Homo sapiens: one gene and its partners. The protein of the gene in region 3 purifies or fractionates together with the protein of the main gene of each other region. This does not show direct contact. Each region holds a gene or a part of one and is shown on either strand. Other genes may lie near its edges.

Region 1 (7,496 bases), on a different chromosome or scaffold from region 3:
CTGTGGGGAACCAACAAACACTGCAATGCCTGGCATTGTCACCTCACTAGATTGTGAGTTCCTCTGGGACAGGGTCCGTACATTTTCTTAGAATCCCTCACTTAGCCATTAGCCTGCACAGTGCTTGTACTTAGTAAGTGCTCAGTAAATGTTTGTGGAATGAATGCATGATGAACAAAATATATACTGAGGACTCTTGGTGTTGATTCTTGTTGATAATGTAATAGTTAAGATATGTTATAAATATGTTATAAATATTGTATCAAAATATTGTATCAAAAATATACTTGAACAGGCTGGGCGTGGTGGCTCACACTTGTAATCCCAGCCCTTTAGGAGGCTGAGGTGGGTGGATCACTTGAGGTCAGGAGTTCGAGACCAGACTGGCCAACATGGTAAAACCCCATCTCCACTAAAAAAAAACAAAAGTTAACTGGGCATGGTTGTGGGTGACTGTAATCCCAGCTACTCAGGAGGCTGAGGCAGGAGAATCGCTTGAACCCGGGAGGTAGAGGTTGCAGTGAACCAAGATCGCACCACTGCACTCTAGGGGACAGAGCAAGACGCCTCAAAAAAAAAAATGTATATATATAGTATATACATACACATGAGCATAAAGGAGCTTCAATGTGAAGGTAATAATTTAAGCAACATTTCACATTTTGGACCTGTGTTGTTAGCTATTTAGAACAGTTAAACTACTAGCTTGCTTTTAAATCCATTGTCTTAGTCATTTCAAGTTGTTATAACAAAATACCATACACTGAGTAGTTTATAAACAACAGAATGCATTTCTCTCAATTCTGGAGGCTGGGAAGTCCAAGATCAAGGTGCTGGCAGATTGTGTGTAGTGAAGATCCATTCATCAGAGATGGCACCTTCTCGTTGTGTCCTCACATGGTGGATGGGGCAACAGGCTCTCTTAGGCTTCTTTTATAAGGGCAATAATTCATGAAGTTTCCACACTTATGATAGAATTACCTCCTAGAGGCCCCACTTCCAAATACCATCACCTTGAGGGTTAGGTTTCAACATACAAATTTTGGAGGTACACATTCAGATGATGACAGCACTCATAGGTTACCTTTCATCTTTGGGTTCTCAGTGCCTGCTACAACAGCACAAGAACAGTAAGTGTGTGCTGAATGAATACAGATGAATGAACCTTTCCCCATCCTCAGATACTTCCCAACTGAGCTCCACTATCACCAAACTTCTAGAGCACATTATTTTTTGCCTTATGATCTCGTTAGGTGGGTTTTTCTTGCACATACCACACTAATCCAGTGGTCCTCAAAATTGTGTGCCCATTAGAATCCTCTGGAGGGGTTGTAAAAATAGTTTGCTGGGTCCTAACCCCAGAGTTTCTGATTTAGGAGGTTTGGGATGGGGACACCAAAATTTGCATTTCTAACAAGTCCAGAGGTGATGTTGATACTGCTGGCTACCAACTCTACCTTATAAACCATTGCCCATTAAACTCTTGAGGGTAGAGACTGTCTTCCTCATTTCAGTATCTGCTGAAGCCTCTGGCATAGTACCTGGCACATAGGAGCTGCTAAAGAAGTAGTTGATTGAACAATAGTTCAAAAAAGTTTATTTTACTGAAGCTAGATTACAAGTATATGAATGTGTGTGTATATGTGATTAAATGAGCTATTACATGTAAAAGCTCTTAAAACATGGCACATAGTAAGCTGTTGCTTTAAAAAAAATAAAAAATGTAACCTTTCTTTGCTTATATTCTAAAATGACACCAACCATCCTACATGTGTGCTCTTAAATAGCTTATATATTAGAATAATGGAATCTTAGTACTAAAGGCTGGATGTGGTTGCTCATGCCTGTAATCCCAGCACCTTGGGAAGCCGAGGTGGGTGGATCACTTGAGGTCAGGAGTTCAAGACCAACCTGTTCAATATGGTAAAACCCTGTCTCTACTAAAAATACAAAAATTAGCCCTGCGTGGTGGTGCATGCCTGTAGTCGCAGATACTTAGGAGGCTGAGGCAGGAGAATTGCTTGAACCTGGGAGGTAGAGGTTGCAGTGAGCTGAGAAGATTGTACCACTGCACTCCAGCCTGGGCAAAAGAGACTGTCTAAAAAAAAAAAAAAAAAGTAATCTAGTTAATATTTCAATATTGAGCATCAAGAATTTTTAAAAATTGGTTGAGTGTTTTCTACATGCAGAAAGATACAGCAGAGAGCATAGACACAATCCTTGCCCTCCCAAGCGTATACCCAGCGAGAAAGTGAGAAGCACAGAGTATGTGTAAGCATAAAAATACTAAGTTTTGAGAGTAGACAGCAACTATGAAAATATTCAGTTATATCGATGCAACTCAGTCTTCATTAATTGTTCTCATCGGAGCACATCTTTTTCACATTCTGTAAAGTAACGCTCGGTATGGGCCCAAGGAATATTTAATAAATATTTAAAAATGAAGTTAATAATTGTTTTGAAAGCCATATGGTTGATATTTCTTCTTAAATGTAACCAATAGAAACAACATAAGGAATTTGGCCTGTGCATATATTTGCACATTTATGGTACAGGCATTTACATGGAGGTGCCTGTCATTTGTGACACAGACTTCTCATCAAGTTTCAGAAGGAACAGATGTTTCTAGATGGAATAATATGGAGCTTGCCATTGTAAGAATCCTGTAATAAATCCTTTCATAAAATAAATATATCTGAATTATCTCTTGTTATACATTTTCACTCCTGGATCATCTAAAGTAGAACACAAAGATTGTTCATAAACTATTCATTCAAAACAACTTTATATAAAAAGAATTACTGTTGCTGAATTCTGGATTCTTATTGTTGCTCTTTCTTACTAGCATGGGGTTTGGGACAAGTCACCTTTTTAAATTTTTTTATTTATATTTTCCTAAGTGAATTAACACAGGAAGTCATTCACCTTTCTTTGCCTCAAAGAATTAAATTTATTCTTTGACGCTATTAAGTAAATTAATAGCGTCTACTTCATTGCTCAGTCACTAGCAGTTTCTGAAGTCACTGTCTGGCAGTCAGTAGATATCACCTCTGTAACTAGTCTTGTGCAGCTCTCTGTGATGTGATCTGGTAGAGGACTAAGATACAAAAGCACAAGGGTGAATTCTAGGACCACCTGAGCCAGTGATTAGTTGATGACAAGTCACATAGTCTCTGTGAGCCTGGGTAAAATGAAGAGACTGGATTTGCTCTTGTACCTTCCCAATCCCTGGCTCCACTAGCTGTTGGCCACCTTAGACTTGAAGGTCCATTCACTGCTGCTTGCCCTTGAAGCTCAATTGCTGGTCAGAGCTTTACACTCCTGGGAAGCCAGTCCCCTACCTGGAGGCTGAGCCGGTGACACTGGTTCCACTGGGTCACAGCTGAAGCACCACTGGGGATGGGGCATTTATGTGGCCATGAGTCACACTAGGGTAGGGGTAGAGGGCAAGTCACAGGAAGATTGTTGGGTTTTTTTTTTTTTTTTTTTTTTTTGGCCAGTTTCTTTTCTTTCTTTTTTTATCCCTTTGAAACAGAAGACCATGGCGTACAATCTGGTATCTGCCTTCAGGGTTGGGATAATATCTTTGTTTTACAATACTCAGAGTGGCTGGAAGAAAGCTGAGGCCACAGGTCACTAGCAGGTTCTAAAGTCTGAAAATCCCTGGGAAAATTTGACTTTTTATATGCTAATAATTGAGTACTGACAACTCTGGAGGGAGCTTTCCAATTCTTCCGTCATGAAAGTGGACTTTGTATACTAAAGAGGGGTTCATGGATTCATGGTAACCTACAATTCTTCCTTGCGGCCTGAACCAAAGGAATAGCAGCTACAGTTGGGTTTTCCTAAAAGGAGTAAGATAGTCCCAGGCCTCCCTTCTCAAATAAGTGTATCAAGCAGGTGGACTCTGCCAGTCGGGGGTCCCGGTCAATCCCTAGGGCCCTGGGGCGCCATGGGCCTCGTGGGAGGGCTGCGCATCCCAACCATGCCTTCGTCTCCTGGTGGGGCACCGGCGGTACGTCCGATCCTCCAGCCCGCGTGGTCAGGCGGCCGCGGGCCCAAGCATTTCCCAGGGCCCAAGCATTTCATTCATTTATTCATTCACGCAGCAGGTATTTCCCGGGCGCCCTCCTCCTGTGTAGGTGACAGAAACTGGGTGGCGAGCGAGCCAGGCAAAGCCCGGCTTCCCTGAAGCTCCCCGCAGCGGCGGGGGCGGAGAAGAGACCTCAGCCCCGCGGGCTCGCACAGCTGGCGCGGACCACGCTCTCGCCCGGGGCCGGCGGCCTCAGCGCCCCCCGAATGAACACCTTCCGCCCGCTGGCCGCCCCGCGAGGCGGGCCGTGTCGTGGCCCCGGTGCACGGAGGGGGACGCCGAGGCCCGGAGCAGGGCCCGTCTCGGCCTGTGCTCGGAGCCAGGCGGCAGGGCCCGCGGGCCGGCGGGCGGCGCGGAGACGGCTGCGCTCCCGCCCTCCGCCAGCGCCTGGCGGCCGCCCCACGTGACGGGAAGCGGCGGCTGCGGGGTCGGGCCAGCCCAGGAGCCGCGGGCCGGAGCGGGGCGGCGGGGCCCCAGGCCGCGGGGCGGCGCGGGACGGCGGGCGCCGGCGCCGGTGAGTGAGGAGGGCGGCGGGGCGCGGGGTGCGGGGCTCAGGGCGCGGGGCGCGTGGGGCAGGAGGGCGGGGAGCAGGAGTGGGGGGTAGGCGGCGGGGCGGGGTGGAGGGCGAGCCCGTGCGTGTGCGCTGGGGCAGGTGTAGTGGGGGCTGGAACGCGGGGTGGGGGGAGCAAGTGGCTATACACTTGGGGGCAGGTGTGCGGGTGTGCGACTTGGTAGCTGTCCCTTGTGGGGGCCGGCTAGCCTGCTGGGGTGAGCAAATAAGTGTTCACGTGTGTGTGGGATGAAGTGTGCACGGGTGTGGGGTCAAGTGTGTATGTTGTGTGTGAGGAGTGCGTGTGTGTTTAGGGCAAGGGAAGACCTGAGAGACCTCGTCCTTGATTTGGGTTTTCCGGGGAGAAGGGCCAGGAAGGACTTGCACCTCCATCCCTGGTATGGAATGGTTTTGGCGCTGTGATTGAGGTTTCTGGGAGCTCTTTGGATTTGAGAGCTCAAATTCGGGTCACACTCAGGCCTGAATTGTCCTGATCTGGAGAGTAGGCAGGGGTGTGTTGGGGAGTAGGGAAAAGTGCTGTGCTGGGCTTCCTGGCCCCTGTTTTTAGCACCAGGTCAAGGGCTGGAAGCTGTCATCCCTGTGGAATTGTTTTCTTTCCATTGCCTTCTGGAGGTGCAGGTGCAAGTTAGTCCGCCTGCCTCCCTGTGTTAAGTGTTGATATCCTTAAACACGGAAGCTGTCCGGTTGTCTGCACCTGCCGTGGCTTCTACCCAAGGACTGTTGAGTGACCCTCAGGAAGCCTCCTACCTGGCTGCTAAAAATGGGGGCTCACAGATCACACAGCAGGCCTTACTGCACGTGGACTGCACGCGCAGCTGTGGTCAAAACATGTCTGAGCAGAGTTTAATCACTGATGAAGTGCTCATGGGCAAGCACCTTGTCTATCAGGAAGGAAGGCAGCTGCGGGTGTGATTGTGGTGGCAAGTTAAGGCACTGAGAAGGTGTGCAGGGAAGATCCTACTGCGTTGTGTGTGTTGGCTTGGTTGGAGTCAGGATGAACGAATGTAGAGGGACTGTGTGGTGGCTGCTACTCTCTCATGGTGGACATGCTTCTCTCTGTTGGTCAGCCGGAAGCTGGCAGACAACTGAGAGCTCGCAGTTCCATGGTCAGTCAGAAGGAACATTTGGTCAGCTGCTTCCTTTTCTTTTTCCTTCCATTTCTGCCAGCCGAGCAGCCTCAACAGTCATTGCAGCTGCTTCTGTGATGTGTAGCAAAACGCTGCCTGGAGTACTAGAAAGTCTACTGGCTGGAATCTGCTGGAACCTGTCCATAACTAGCCTGCCCCAGGTCATCTATGAAATGGGAGTGATGCTCTGTGGTGGTAATGAATGTGGAGTGTGGGTTCAAATCCTGCCTCTGCCATTTCCTGTGACCTTTGGGCAATTTGCTGGACATTCTGAGTCTCAAATTCCTCCATCAAAATAGGGATAATATTAGAAAAGGCACATGAATTCTAATAAGAAATTGTGCCTGGAAAGGATCCGGCACAGGGTCTGGCATTTAGTAGGTGCTCAATAAATTATTGCTGACAAATATAAATGAGGATGTAGAGCCAGGTCTCCCTCAGCTCTGAAAATATGTAGTTTTATGTTTTGAGTAATTGTTAACCTAACAAATGATTTACTCTGGAGTTAGACTTGTGGGTTCTGAATTCCAATTTGCTATGTGCATCAAGGTTTGCATTACACAATTGAATTGGGTGAGAGGTGAGGTGCCACTGTTAGCCTTCATTCACTCTGCCTTTTCTTCTACACTCATGATTGTGCATGGCAGTCCTCTTGTCATAGCATTGGAGGCAGAGCGTTTTCACCACTGCAGGAATCCCAGGACCAATCTAACCTCAGCTTAAACCCTCCAGAGACAGGGATTTGTAAAGGGCCCATTCTTCATTTAGGCAGCTCCAGTTGAGGAGTTTTAAAAGCATAGAGCTCACTATTTTAAAAATGCTATATTTTCTTTTTGTTGTTGTCTTCTGGGTGGTTTTTTTGCTGTTGTTTTTGAGACAGGGTCTTGCTCTGTCACCCAGGCTGGAGTGCAGTGGTGTGACCATGGCTCACTGCAGTCTTGATCTCCCAGACTCAAGGGATCCTCCCACCTCAGCCTCTCAAGTAGCTGGGACCACAGGCTCGCACTACCACACCCAGATAATTTAAAAAATTTTTTTTGTAGAGATAGGGGTCTCCCTGTGTTGCCCAGGCTGTTCTCAAACTCCTGGCCTCAAGCAATCCTCCTGTCTTGGCCTCCCAAAGTGCTGGGATTACAGACCTGAGCCGCTGCGCCCAGCCAAAAAACTTGCTGTATTTTCTGGGTCTGATATGCAGCTAACATTTCTGTTAGGAAAAAAAAAATGAAGTTATTTGGCTTATTCCTTCATGCTAATATTACAAATTTGTGATCTTTTAAGAAAACTTGAAGAAATTTTACTTAATGGGTTAAGTGTCTTCATCTTGGTCTGAATCCAGCCCTCATTAGAAATACATTAAAGTAGTCATTTGTGGCAGCCAGGTGTTTGGATACTGCCGAATAATTTGGCTCAGACTTTACAACTCATCTCTGTAGCAAACCTGACTCGTTTTTCTTTATTTAAAAAAATAAATACCTACTAAATGAATGTAGAGTAACAACTTAATTTGGTGCTACCCCAAATGACTTTAAGTGCCTCATGAAAAGTGAATTATGAAATCTTGCAGATGATTTGAAATCAAGATCTTTTCTTGATAGTCAAGTAACTGCTGTTGAAAAAGTTAAAGATTTAAGGAAAAAATCACATATTTAAAGATGACAACTGACTGGATATTATGGACTATCAAGTCCTGTAGGTACTCAATAAT
Region 2 (5,194 bases), on a different chromosome or scaffold from region 3:
GAGGCTCCAGTTGTCCCTCACTGCCCATCTGTGTCTGTGCCAGACGGCACCAGACCCCAGGCACAGCAAACACCTGGGTACAGGTGTGCCCTCAGCAGGGCGGGGACCTCTGCAGCCCTGGTCCCTGAGATGCACCCTGCTGGCCTCTGCCATGTGGCTCTGTCTGCCGGGCCGGGTTCCTTACTGTTCCTTCCTACATCCTGGAGCACCCTGGGTGCAGCCTGCCCTCCGTCCCTGGCTGTGCTGTGAGGAGCCTGCCTGGTGGGGGCCTGGGCTGGAGGCGGGGCCCCTTGGCCAGAAGTCCCTGGGGTCTGCAGCCAGCCTGGCTCCTCCGCAGCCCCACCTCTGGCCTGTGGGCAGGGCCTGTGCCCATCATTGAGGAAAGTGTGCTGGCCACAAGCCCAAAAGCCCAGGAGTGGGCTCGGCCTGGAGCCTGGCTGTGGACCTGCCACTGCCCCTCTGGCTGGGCTCACTGGTAGGCACGCCAGTCCCTCGGTGCCACATGGTGGGTGCTCCCATCTGCCAGTGCTGAGAGCGGGTCAGGCATGTGGAGCCCAGGGCTGCCACCAGCGGGGCAGGAGCCTCCCGGGGACTCGGGCACAGATGCCATCCCCTGGGAAAACGTCGGAGGTCACGCGAGTGCAGATTGGTGAGCAGCGCCCAAGGGCAGAAGGCTGGCAGGGCTGTGGCCTCCCCACATTGTGCTGCCGCTGCCAGGGCTCCACCAGCTCAGAGCAGGGCAGCGTTGCAGCCCGTTTTCCATTCACTCACAGCCTCTCGGGTTCTCTGGATCCGGGACTTGACACTTTATGCTCAGGGTGGGGGACAGAGCCTCACAACACACACCTGGCGGCCTTTGACAGCCCCTGCCTTCTGGGGCTGGAGTTTGGACAGGCTCTCCCCATGGGGCCACCCAGTGGGCAGCGGGTGTGCAGGACAAGCAGACGGGCGCCGGGCGCGCTCCGCAGCCTCATCCATCATGACACGCGCCGTCACCTCGTCACCAAGCTCCGTTCTGCCTCCGGAGCCCTAAAACACCAAAAGGGGCTCGGGACGCGGGCGGTGCTGCTTGGGGAGCCTCGGTGACAAGTGTTCAGTGAGGTGTGCCGCACGCTGCCTGTGCCCGCCGTAATTTGTTTATCTGTCCAAAGATTATGCAGTTGAAAATCCACAATTTTATGCTGCCTTTGTAAATTACCACGCTGCGTTTGATGAATGTTTCTCCACTTCTGCGGAGGCGCCGCTTCACCCGCGAGAGGCGGGAAGGTGCTCATGCATGCGGTGCCGAAGCTTGTTTTCTCATTCTTTCTGGCAGGCGCCCATGCTGGAAAGTAAATCTGACCTTGAGCTTCCCACTGCATTAAAGATAACTCAGTTTTACCTGGATAGTCTCAGATGCTCCAGCTGTGGATATAAAATTCCAGCCCAACCAGAGCCGAGTGCTGACCAGCAGCAAACCCCTTCCGGAGGCGCCCGGAATACAGGCACCTGCTGGGAAGTGCGCACACAGCCGTGAATTACTGTGCACAGATTGCTTTGTGTAGTGGTGTGGAATTCGGTGTCTGTTCTCGTTTGAACACTGAGTTCTAGGTTAATAGAACAGTCAAAAACAAATCAAAGTGGGAAGATTGGAACTAGATGGGCTGCCGCACTCAGAGGAGCACACCTGCACAGAAAGCTGGGGCGCACACACTCCTGTGAACAGGGTCCCCTGCAACTCCCCTGAGAGCCCAGGAGCATGTCCGGGAGAGGGGAGCTTGGGAGCCGGGCCAGCACCCGCGGCTCCCCACGCGACCCCTCCTAGAGGCAGATACCTGTTGTCCAAAAGGGCCAGGGTCAAGGTGCTGAGGCGCTGCCACATCACCAGAGCCTTTGGTCCATGAGCTGGCCTCTCTCTCAGGGGCCAGGCAGGGCGGGTGGCAGAGGCTGGGGAGGTACTGGCAGGGGCCGACATCCCCATCTCTCTGCCCCCACAAAACCCTGATGTTCCTGCCAGTCAGCTCCCAACTGGACCCAGGGTGCCCCACCTCCCCACACTCACCTGTCTGTTTCCCCTTTCCAGTCGGAGAGCGAGGAGAAGGTTGTCACCTATGACCACATTGGGCCCAACGTCTGCATGGGAGACCACAAGGTGACATAGACTGAGGTCCAGGGGCCAGGCTGGGGGACCAAGGGGAAGCTAGGGGGCCGGGGGGCTGGGGCCAGTGGGTGGGCGGGTGCTGGGGCTGGCAGGCAGGTGGGCGGGGGTTGGCCAGTCTCTCCTCTCCTGTTCTCCTGTCTTCTTAGTCTGACTACAGAGTAGGCCAAGTTGGTCTGTTTTTATTTAATTTTAATAAAATATCATAAGCTAGGTGGGTAAGTAGGAAGAAGGCAGAAATGACGTTACAATAGAATAAAATACATAATTTAATATTTGTAAAAAAATGTCCACAGCTGATTGTTTCTGAAGGCTGTTTTGCAAATATGCAGCTTCAGTGTTTTAATGGCCTTCTTGGGGCAGGCTCACTGTCAGCCGAGGAGCCGGGGTGAGGGCGCTCCCCACCGTGTGCCAAGGGGCAGCACTGGCACAGATCGTTTATTCAGGCAACTGCACCTCGAGAGTGTGCACAGGAGACAGATCAAATCTCATTTTCAGCCAATAAATGAGTTAGCTTCTTCCACGTTGGAGGCCCAGAGCTGTGAGCCCCAAACACACCCGGATAAGACGCTGGACCTGCCAGGTGCGGCAGAGCCGAGGACGGGAGAGCCTTCCTTCCCCGCTTCATTTGGGGCCTATTTAGCCATTCTTTTACATCAGTTTTTCCATTAATTTTTTTACCTGGAAATAACACCTTCCTTGCAAAACCTCTCATGGCCGGCCTGGCTCCAGTTCCACATTCACGGGGCCCCCAACCCCTGCGCTGCCGTGGCTGTGCACAAGGGCCGAGCTGCCTCTGCTGGCCATCAGCTCCTCCCAGCCCGGTTCATGGCTGCCCTGGTGAGACGCAGGGTCTGGGGGTGCAACGGGAGGCGGCGGCATGTGCTGTGCTGTCCCGCGTGCGCCGTGCTGACACCGTCCTCTCTTCCTGCTGCAGCCCGTGTTCCTGGCCTTCCGAATCATGCCCGGGGCAGGTAAACCTCATGCCCATGTGCACAAGTGTTGTGTCGTGCAGTGACGTGGTGGTAAATATGACTCCTCCCTCCAGTTCAGCTTTTACGCAGCTTTTCCTGGTGCGTTTGTTCCTTTAACAAATTACGAATTCCGTGACAGGGAAGAGATGCCAGCGCCACGAGAGGACACTTCGTGAGCCTCCCTGTAGCCGTGGACCGAATACGCACTCTTGAAAGCTGCATCGAGAACCCGCCCAAGCGCCACCTGCTAGACGGCCAGCCCCACACTTCGCTTCAGCCTCCGGACCATTCCGGAGCAGCCTCACATACCTCACTGTCTCGTCTGTCTATGTGACATTAAGTAGAAATATTGGTTTTTTTTTTTTTTTTTTAAATAAGTCACAGTCCTGTTGTCAAAACTCTAATAGACAGCAAAGAGGGTCTGTACCGTAGACTTCACAGTTTTCAGTTTTTAATGATTGCCAGTGGAGGGGCTTCTTCAGCACAGAGACCCCCCACTGTGTCCAGGGACCCCCTCTGCCAGGTGGAGGTGTGTCCAGGGGCTGGGGAAGCCGAGACGGGCACTCCCTCTGCCGGCCGGCAGCGTGGCCCTGAGCATGGCAAGGGGGTCTGTCTCTGCCGATGCTCCTTCCGCGGCACTGACTCTGCGCCGTGTCACATGGTTTTTGAATCACACTGCAGCTGCTTTCCATTTTTATATATATATAAATATATATAAATATATACTTTTTAAAAATAATTTATAAATCTTACCAAAACTTATGCTAAATATACTTTCCAGTATGAACGCACAGGAGAGTCCCATCAGCAGGCGGCATTGGAGTCTAGGAGCTCAGCTGTGTGTCCATCAACACACAAATTCGTAAAAAACACACATGGCCTCGCCATCGTGGGTAAAATCGGCCCCACAGCACGTCTGCACCAGCGGGCCGTTACTCCCATGCCGTTCTTCTGTGTAATATTAAGAACTGAATGTGAAGTTTATAGCTAGCCTGGGTGTACCTTTTAAGAATTTTGTAAACCGTTTGTCTGTCTTTTGTTACTGTTTTATGGTGCCAAGTATCCTACGTTACAACAATAATATCATGGGAGAAATAGAAATAGCCTAGTTTGCTTCCAATAGAAACTGCTTTTAACATGGGCTGTATATAAAAATATTAAAGAGAAACAAAACTGTACATTTCCTCATTGCTCCGCTACAGACAACCCATGTCATAACCTTGTTGCAAATATTTTTCTCCTATAGCAGTAAGTACAGCATTAGAAGGTGATTAGAGAGTCTGTTGATGAAACACAAATGTATGTTTTATTGATTTTACTTTAGAACACTACAGAGTTCCTGGACCGGGTGAAGGCATTAGCTGGGTGTTTGTGTGGGATAAATACTACCACTGCAAGTGACTGCTGTCCGCTGCGGAATCTGTTCTTGGTGGAAGCACAGGTCCGTGTCGCTGCTGTGGTTGCCGCTGTCCGCGGTTCAACACGGAGTCCGCCCCGCGGGTTTCAGCTGTTGGTCGTTCTGAGGGGCCTTTGGAAGTGACCGGTCTGGTTCCTAAGCAATAAAATTGACCGTGGTGAAAATAGTCCCGTGTTGCTTTTTCTTCCTTTCCCTTCTCCTGCCACCTTTGAAATGCTAACTCAGGGGAGCGGCCTCCTGTATAGCCTGTTATTTGAGATCAAGCTCATTAGAAATCCTGGAATTTCACTGTATCACACGCTGTCACAAAACACTAAGCCGTTCATTGAGAGGAGAAACACAGCCTTTTGGACTTTCTACTGTAATAAAGGATTTATCCCTCAACATTTTAAAACGGGATTATATCAACGCTTTGCCTTCCTCAAAACTTTAAGAAGCCCCTCTGCTCTGAGCTGAGAGGGGCTCCCCACAGAAAAGCGTTGCTTCTGCCCTTCGAGTTGCTTCCTTGTAAAGAAGGCTGCTAAGAGCCTAAAACAAAACGCGCCGAGTTTAAGCCCTTTCTATTTCCCTTTAACGCTTCCGCAAATGCCAAGAGAAATCGTACCACCGCAGTGATATCATTATTTACATTTAATTTTTAAAAATTAAAACTCAACAGCCACGCCC
Region 3 (7,447 bases):
ATGGGGCTAGTGTGAGTCACAGACAGCTGGCAGGCAGAGGGACCAAGGGGCAGAGTACAAGAGGCTGTCTAGGAGGCTGGAGACCCTTGGAGACACCCGAGAGAAACATGGGAGGCCAATGGTGTCCCCAACACAGACACCAGCCACACCAGGCCCAGCAGCCCCACCTGTGCAGTGGTTCAGCACAGTGGTAGTGTTGAGCATGGCAGGGGTAGCAGTCAACGTGTACGTGCCATGGCTGGTGAGGGCACTGGGTGTCTGTCTGTCCTACTGCAGCTGGTCTCACCATGTCCTGCTGACAGGAAACTGGACCTCTGGCAACATCACTGGCTGCACTCAGCCCCAGCTCCCAATATGCCCCCACCTGCCTGCTGGCCCCCACCCTAGGCCTGGTAGGACCTCAACTGCTGACCTTGCCCATAGTGCTGCTGGCCAGTGAGCGGGCCTGGGAAGCAAACTCATGATGTCAGGTTTAAATCCCTGCTTCAGGCAGGAGAATCAGCGCGTGCGGTTCTAGGTACTGAGCCGTGGTCATTTGTTACATCAATTTCGGGAAACATCCTGGCTTCCCAGAGCAGACCCCCGAGGGTGGGGGTCCAAGCAGAGACTGAGGCTGTCACACCCGGTGCTCCCCTACCCAACCTGAGACCCAGGGTCCCCGCTCCGGCCAACACCCTTCCAGAAACAAGGGGACCCGGCCCAACCTCTGCCTCCCACAGACACCAGGGGTCCCAGTGCCTCAATAAAACACCCTGGGGGAGACTGCGCCCTGTTCTCCCGTCCCCTCCCGTCCTGCCACACCCTTCCCCCTCTCCTCCCTCACTCTGCTGCTCAGGATTCTATGAGCCCCAGGATTTCGGGGGTGACCCTCCAGGAGCCAACCCCTCCTGCTGGCTGGAGACCTCGGCCCGCACCAGCCCCTTTGGGAGCCTCGGTTTCCCCTCCTAAGGTGCTGGGCTGAGCAGAGGGAGGGAGGCACAGGTGTGTCTGAGGGTGGGTGGGCAGATGCAGCCCAGCTCCCCTCCCTCCCAGCCCCCTCCCCACGGCTCCAATTAAGGGTCCTCCACGCTCAATCGCTGCATTTGACTTACTGGCGGCCTCGCCTCCCGAACGAGGCCTTTGTTCCCTTAATTGGCCATCTCCAGGCACCATTCTCTGCCCCCCGCCGACGCACGCCAGGTCCATATCCCAGGTCCAACTATGCGCTAATTGGGCACTTAGAGGGCCCCAGAAAGCCCCCTCCCCTCCCTGTTCCCTGCCTTCCTATATTAGCCCCCACCTGCCGCTCCCTCAGACTTCAGGTCGGGCTCCTGGGAGGTGGGGACAGGGTTAGGGCACAGTGGGGAGGCCTTGGCCCAATTCCCAGCCCTGCCTCCTCCCCAGCCCGGGGTGCCTGGGCCTCCAGAGTCCCCTGCCCCTCCCTGCTCACAGATTTGGGGGGTGCTTTGGTCAGCAATATTGTGGGGAGTTACTCCAGACCACCCTGGCCATGCACCCCGGGGTCCCCGAAGGCCCTGGGGTCTCCGAGCCCGGCCCCCGGGAGCTGTGTGCCTTTGTGAGCGGGGCGGCCGCCCACATGCTGCGGGCCCTGCAGCCCCGGCGCACCCGGCCCCCCAAGAGGCGGCCCAACCACAGAAGGTTTCTGCACAACCAGATCTGCAGGTGAGGGGGCTGGTGGGGAAGGTGGGCACGGGACGGGGAAGAGGGGAAGGAGCAACCAGCACCCTTGGCTGGGGGAGACCAGGTACAGACAGAGAGGAGCAGCCCCCAGGGCTGGATGCCAGCAACAGTCAACGTGCATTTATTGAGTGCCTACTGTGTGCCAGGCCAGTTAGCAAAGCAGATAAAGTTCCTTGCTGTCGTGGAGGTTGTGTTTTCATGGGGGTGGCGGACGGTCAGGAATCACCAAAATAAATAACTAGCACGGTGTGATGCGACCACATAGGTGACCCTTGCAAATATGCTGGCCGGGGGTGGTGGCTCAAGCCTGCAATCCCAGCACCTTGAAAGGCCGAGGCAGGAGGATCGCTTGAGTTCAGGCGTTAGAGACCAGCCTGCTCACATCTGTCTTTACAGGCAGTTCACCAAGATTGAGGCTGCCACCCAGCGCCTGGCCCTCTCCATCCTGTCCCAGGAGGCACCTCCCCAGAGACCCTCGCTCCAAAAGCCACCCCCACCGCCTCCATCCCCCTTCCTGGGAGTGGCCTGTGCTGTGGCCCCCACTGAGGCTCCCCATGCCAGCGCCAGCCTGAGTCTCGCTGCCCTGGACACCTCTACCCTCGACCTCTTTGACAACATTGCGCTCACCCCAGAGTGTGCCTCAATGCCATGGGACCCCTCCTCTGGTTCTGATGCTCCCCTGCCAGCGCCGGGTCTGTCCCATCGCGACCTGGGCCAGCTGGACCTGAGGCAGGTCCCACATTTCTGCGGCCCCCTGCCCCTTCCCCAGCATGCCCTGGGGGAAGAGGCTGATCTCGTGGCTCCCGACTGGGGTTGGGTGGACTGCTGGGAGGTGCCTCGTGCCTGGGATTCTCAGGGGATCCCCGAGGGTTGGGGGACCAGCTCCCCATGAGGCCAATCACAACCCAGCCCAGAACCCAGGACAAGCCAGAGGCCCCTCCACGACGGCTCTACAGCCCTCTCCAGGAGCCCCCAACCTGTCCACTCCCTTCCTGGCAGCCCCTGGGAAAATAAACCAACCCAGACCCCCACTTCAGACCACTGCCTCAGGGGTCTCCTCCTGGGCCCAGGGGCCCCACCTCCACCTCTTCTTGCTTTCCTGCCTTCCCCCTTCCTTCTGCCTAGCCCCATCTGGGCATCCACCCCTCACTCTCACCCAGGCTCACCTCTGCCTAATGTCTGCTCTCCTGTCATTTATTCCCAAAGATGTATCGAGCGCCTACTATGGGCCAGGCCCAGGTCTAGGACTTGAGGATTCAGCTGTGAACGAGGCAGACGGGACCCCTGCCTCAGGGAGCTCCCTGTTCTGTGTGCATGTGTGTGTTTTGGCGGGGAACAGACAATAAAAGAGTATATCCATGCATTTTTCAAAAAGCAAGATTCATTTCCAATTCAGATTGGAGTTAGTGCTGAAAAGAAAATAAAACACAAGGCCGGGTGCGGCGGCTCACACCTGTAATCGCAGCACTCTGGGAGGCCAAGGCAGGCGGATCACTTGAGCCCAGGAGTTCAAAACCAGCCTGGGCAACAGAGTGAGACCTCCATCTTTACAAAAAAATTAAAAAATTAGTCAGGTGTGGTGGCGCATACCTGTGGTCCCAGCTACTCAGGAGGCTGAGGTGGGAGGATCGCTTGAGCCCGGGAGGTTGAGGCTGCAGCAAGCTGTGATCGTACCATGGTACTCCAGCCTGGGTGATAGAGCAATTTTTTTCTTTTTTTTGATGTTTCAAAAAAATTAAAAACAGCGACCTGATGGAAGGGCTACCTGACACCAGGTGGTCAGGAAAGGCTTTGAAAGCCTGGAAGGTTGGGCCATGGGGAGTCCTAGGATTCCAGGCTGAGGCAGCACACGTGCAAAGGCCCTGCGGTGGGACATTGAGGGAAGAGCAAGAGGAGACCCCTGTGGCTGGAGCGGAGTGAGCAGGGGGAGTGGTGAGAGGCGAGGTCTGCACGGACCAGGAAGGCCGACCATGAATTGGGAGGAGTTTGGATTTATTCCAAGACAGATAGGAAATTCTCTCTTTCTCTCAACCTCCATTTCCAAGCACAGAGTCTAAATTATTCTAAACACCACCCGAGGAGGCAGGTGCTGTACAGATGGGGAAACTGAGGCAGCACAGAGCGCAAAGGACAGGGGGGCGTCAAATTCCTCACTTGATCGCTCCCTCAGCCAGCCCCTTCCTGGAAAGTGCTTGGGTATCTTTGTAAGCCTCCGTTTCTTGAGAGAGGGCCAGGTTTCGAACCGCAGACATGCCTCTACTCTAGGTAAGACCCCTCTCTCTCTCTCCCGGCCTCGGCGGTCTGCTCTGTGCAATGGGGCCGGCCGAGACGCCCTCTCTCCAGCCAGAGTCTGAGCCTTCGGAGACCACCGCGCGACTCCGCCCCGTCGGCCGCCACTCACGCCCTCTACGGCTCTCCATTGGCAGAACGACCTGCTGCCCCGCCCCCACGGCGCCTTTGCGAGCTAATCATTTTCTTGAGACTGACAGCCTTGCCGGCACCGCCCCCCCTGGGGCGGGAGCAAAGCAGCTGCATATGCGGATTGGTTGAGAGGCAGGGGGCGGGGTGAGTTGGTGAGCGCCGATTGCGGGCAGAGGCAGTGGCACATGCGGATTGGCCGGAGAGAGCGGCGAGGCAGAGCATGATGAGTGTCGATTGGACGGCTGGGCCCAAGTGGGCGGAAAACGGACGGTGCAGGGGGTGGGCCACGTGTCCAGCCCTAACGAAACGGTAACCAGCCCTGGGAAGCCCGCAAGAGGCCTCAGCGGTGGCCGTCCGAGAGCCGAGAGGTGAGGGTGCCCCCGCCTCACCTGCAGAGGGGCCGTTCCGGGCTCGAACCCGGCACCTTCCGGGTAAGTCCTCTCTCGCTGCTGGCGCTATTTGGAGACCGACCTTACCGCCTAGCAGATGGGGAAACTGAGGCTCTGCCTGGGCGTCCCGGGCCAAGGTCACAGGACCAGAAGGAGGACTCCACCTGGCCCCGCCAGAATTGGCTGGCCAGAGATTGGAAGCGTCCCCGGGTCGCGCCTGCCGCCTCTGTAACAGCGCTGGGGGGTGGGCAGGTTTAATCCCCATTTCTCCGACGAGAAAACTGAGGCTAAGACAAAGAGAAACTTGCCCAAGGTCACACAGCCAGGAAGTCCGGGCTCCAAGGCCGGGTTTCCGAGACCGGGTGGGGAAATCAACGGCCCTACCCCGCCCCCTGTTGCCGCCCACCTCCAGCCACGCCCCCTTTGGCCTTGGGTACCCTCCACCCAGGCTGAATCTCTCCTCGTTCCGCAGGACACGCCCAACCCTCTCCAGCCCAGACCTCCCCTTCACATCTCTCTCTCTCACACACCCACCCTCACCCCAATTTTTCATCTCCCAAAAACCAGTTCCCCTCCCCGGGATCCCCTATGAATCTTCAGATCATGCCCCTCGCTCGACCAGAAACTGGGGGCCTTTCTCCCCGACTTTCCCCACCGTCCCAGCTGCCCCTTCCTGACTCTCCCCTGTCCCACTGGGCCCCAGCGCCGACCTCCTGCTCTCTGGCCTTTTGCCTCCAGTTCAACCGCACGGCGGGGGCCTGAAGCCATCTTTGTATTTTGCATTTTGAACACTTTTTCTGGAATAATACCACAAACGCAGAAAATCGAACGGTTTGCAAATACACAGCTTAAATAAATATTTATAAAGGGAGCACCCTGGTGTAAACAAGTATCCAAAGAAAAAAGTCAAACATGCGCCACATCCCAGGATCTCCCGCCGTCGTCGTTTCCATCACTGTGGTCCAAGGGCAGTCACTGTCCTGGCTTCTGACGCCATAGATCAGTTTTGCCGGGTTTTGGCTTTATGCCAACCCTTTATTGTATATAGTATTGACTAGACAACTTGTTGCACATTGTCCAGAATTCAGAAGAAACAGAATAGGACCCAGTGAAAAGGCTCCTACAGACTTCCCCGGTGCCTGGTTCACCCGCCTGAGTCTCCCGTTTCTTGCTTGTTTGCCAGAGATAGCAGATATAGATATAGGCAACACAGACACATTTTCCTCTCCCTTTTTTCTTTGGCACAAAAAGGAGCATTCCATACACACTGTTCTGCTTCTTTTTCACTTCTCTCAAACATGTTTTCGTATTGTTACTTAAAGAGCTTCCTCGTAATTTTTTCTGGCTGCGAGGAATAACAGAGTATAGTTATGGCATGACTTACGTAACCAGTACCCTCATTGTGGACATTGATACTTAACTTCTGCTCCTTTGCTCTGGGGAAGAGTCCTGTAATGAATAATCCTGTGTCGTTTCACATGAATGTCTGTAGGATAAATGCTTAGGAGCAGCTTTTGAGGTCAGAGGGTTTGTGTATCCATCATTTTGAGAAATGCAGCTGCTCGGCTGTCCCTAGGAGTTGTTGTGACCCACACTCCTACCAGGCCAGAGGGGAGTTCCTGGGTGCTCCACATGCCTGTCCTAGGCTTTTGGACATGCTGGCCCCCAGATCTGCCCCTCCATGGCTCCTCACTGCCCTCAGCAGAGAGACTCCAGGGCCCTTGTGACCCACCTGTCAGCTCTCCAGCTCCTGGTTCCCTCAGAACCATCCCTTGGGGCCCGGGTGTCCAGGTCCCGCCTCCTGCACAGGGGAGGAAGAGTTAGCACATGAGTGGCCGTGAGAGGGTCACTCCATGGGGAGGAAACCGCAAGGGCTGTTTGAGAGGAGGGAGTGGCTGGGCTGAGGCTGGAGGGTCTTCAGAGCAGTGCGGGGCGGGGGGGAAAGGGGCGCCTGCATCTTAGTCCTGAGGACAGAGAGAATCCACGGGGGTCAGGGGACAGTTTGAGACAGGGGAGTAATAGCTTTGTGTTTTGTGAAAAGATCATTTTTCTGTCGTCAGTTTCTCTAGGAGAACACTGCAGCCCCTGCCAAGCTGTATCTGACTCCCTCCAAATCCCACTTATCACAGTTGTAATTATGGGATTAATTCACTGTGGTTTTGTTTCAGAGGGAGTTTCCATTCAATTTTATTTAATGAGATAAAATTTGCACAACATAAAATTGACCATTTTAACCATTTATTCGTTTTTAAACTTGAGATATGGTGCACATAGAAAACATTTGCTATGGTAGATGGATTATGTTCAAAGAATAATAGGCCAGGCGCGGTGGCTCACGCTTGTAATCCCAGCATGTTGCAAGGCTGAGGCGGGAGGTTCGCTTGAACCCAGGAGTTCGAGACCAGCCTGGGCAACATAGGAAGACCCTGTCTCTAAAAATATAAAAATACAAAAATTAGCCAGGTGTGGTGGCATACACCTGTAGCTCTAGCTACTTGGGAGGCTGAGGTGGGATGATCACTTGAGCCCAGGAGGTTAAGGATGCAGTGAGCTATGATTGCGCCACTGTACTCCAACCTGGGTGACACTATGAGACCCTGTCTCAAAAAGAAAAAATAGTACAGGGAGGCCAAGGCAGGAGGGTTGCTTGAGGCCAGGACGAGAGAGAGAAAGAAAGACAAGGAACAACAGTGTCCTAACTACCCAGCTTTGAAAATAGCAGCTCAAGGCCAGGTGCGGTGGCTCACACCTGTAATCACCAGCACTTTGGGAGACTGAGGCGGGTGGATCACGAGGTCAGGAGTTCAAGACCAGCCTGGCCAACATGGTGAAACCCCATCTCTACTAAAAATACAAAAATTAGCCAGGCATGGTGGCACAAGCCTGTAATCCCAGCTACTTGGGAGACTGAGGCAGGAGAATCCTTGAACCTGGGAGGCAGAGCTTGCAGTGAGCCA

Evidence for each region.
Region 1: the proteins of ISOC2 (region 3) and TGFBRAP1 purify together in Homo sapiens (co-immunoprecipitation; 3 studies listed by BioGRID and IntAct, with this or other methods). This does not show direct contact.
Region 2: the proteins of ISOC2 (region 3) and INPP5A purify together in Homo sapiens (affinity purification with mass spectrometry; 2 studies listed by BioGRID and IntAct, with this or other methods). This does not show direct contact.

Annotation. Positions count from the first base shown.
Region 1 is NC_000002.12:105,326,736-105,334,231, reverse strand, and holds the start of TGFBRAP1 (transforming growth factor-beta receptor-associated protein 1), read left to right. Parts: upstream 1-4,496; 5' UTR 4,497-4,607; intron 4,608-7,496. UniProt on the Homo sapiens protein: Plays a role in the TGF-beta/activin signaling pathway. It associates with inactive heteromeric TGF-beta and activin receptor complexes, mainly through the type II receptor, and is released upon activation of signaling.
Region 2 is NC_000010.11:132,778,787-132,783,980, forward strand, and holds the end of INPP5A (inositol polyphosphate-5-phosphatase A), read left to right. Parts: intron 1-2,062; coding exon 2,063-2,131; intron 2,132-3,074; coding exon 3,075-3,155; 3' UTR 3,156-3,162; intron 3,163-3,250; 3' UTR 3,251-4,694; downstream 4,695-5,194. UniProt on the Homo sapiens protein: Phosphatase that specifically hydrolyzes the 5-phosphate of inositol 1,4,5-trisphosphate to inositol 1,4-bisphosphate, and inositol 1,3,4,5-tetrasphosphate to inositol 1,3,4-trisphosphate. Plays a crucial role in the survival of cerebellar Purkinje cells.
Region 3 is NC_000019.10:55,458,597-55,466,043, reverse strand, and holds the start of ISOC2 (isochorismatase domain-containing protein 2), read left to right. Parts: upstream 1-4,401; 5' UTR 4,402-4,532; intron 4,533-7,447. Other genes in the region: uncharacterized protein C19orf85, read left to right, coding at 1,490-1,662, 2,077-2,572.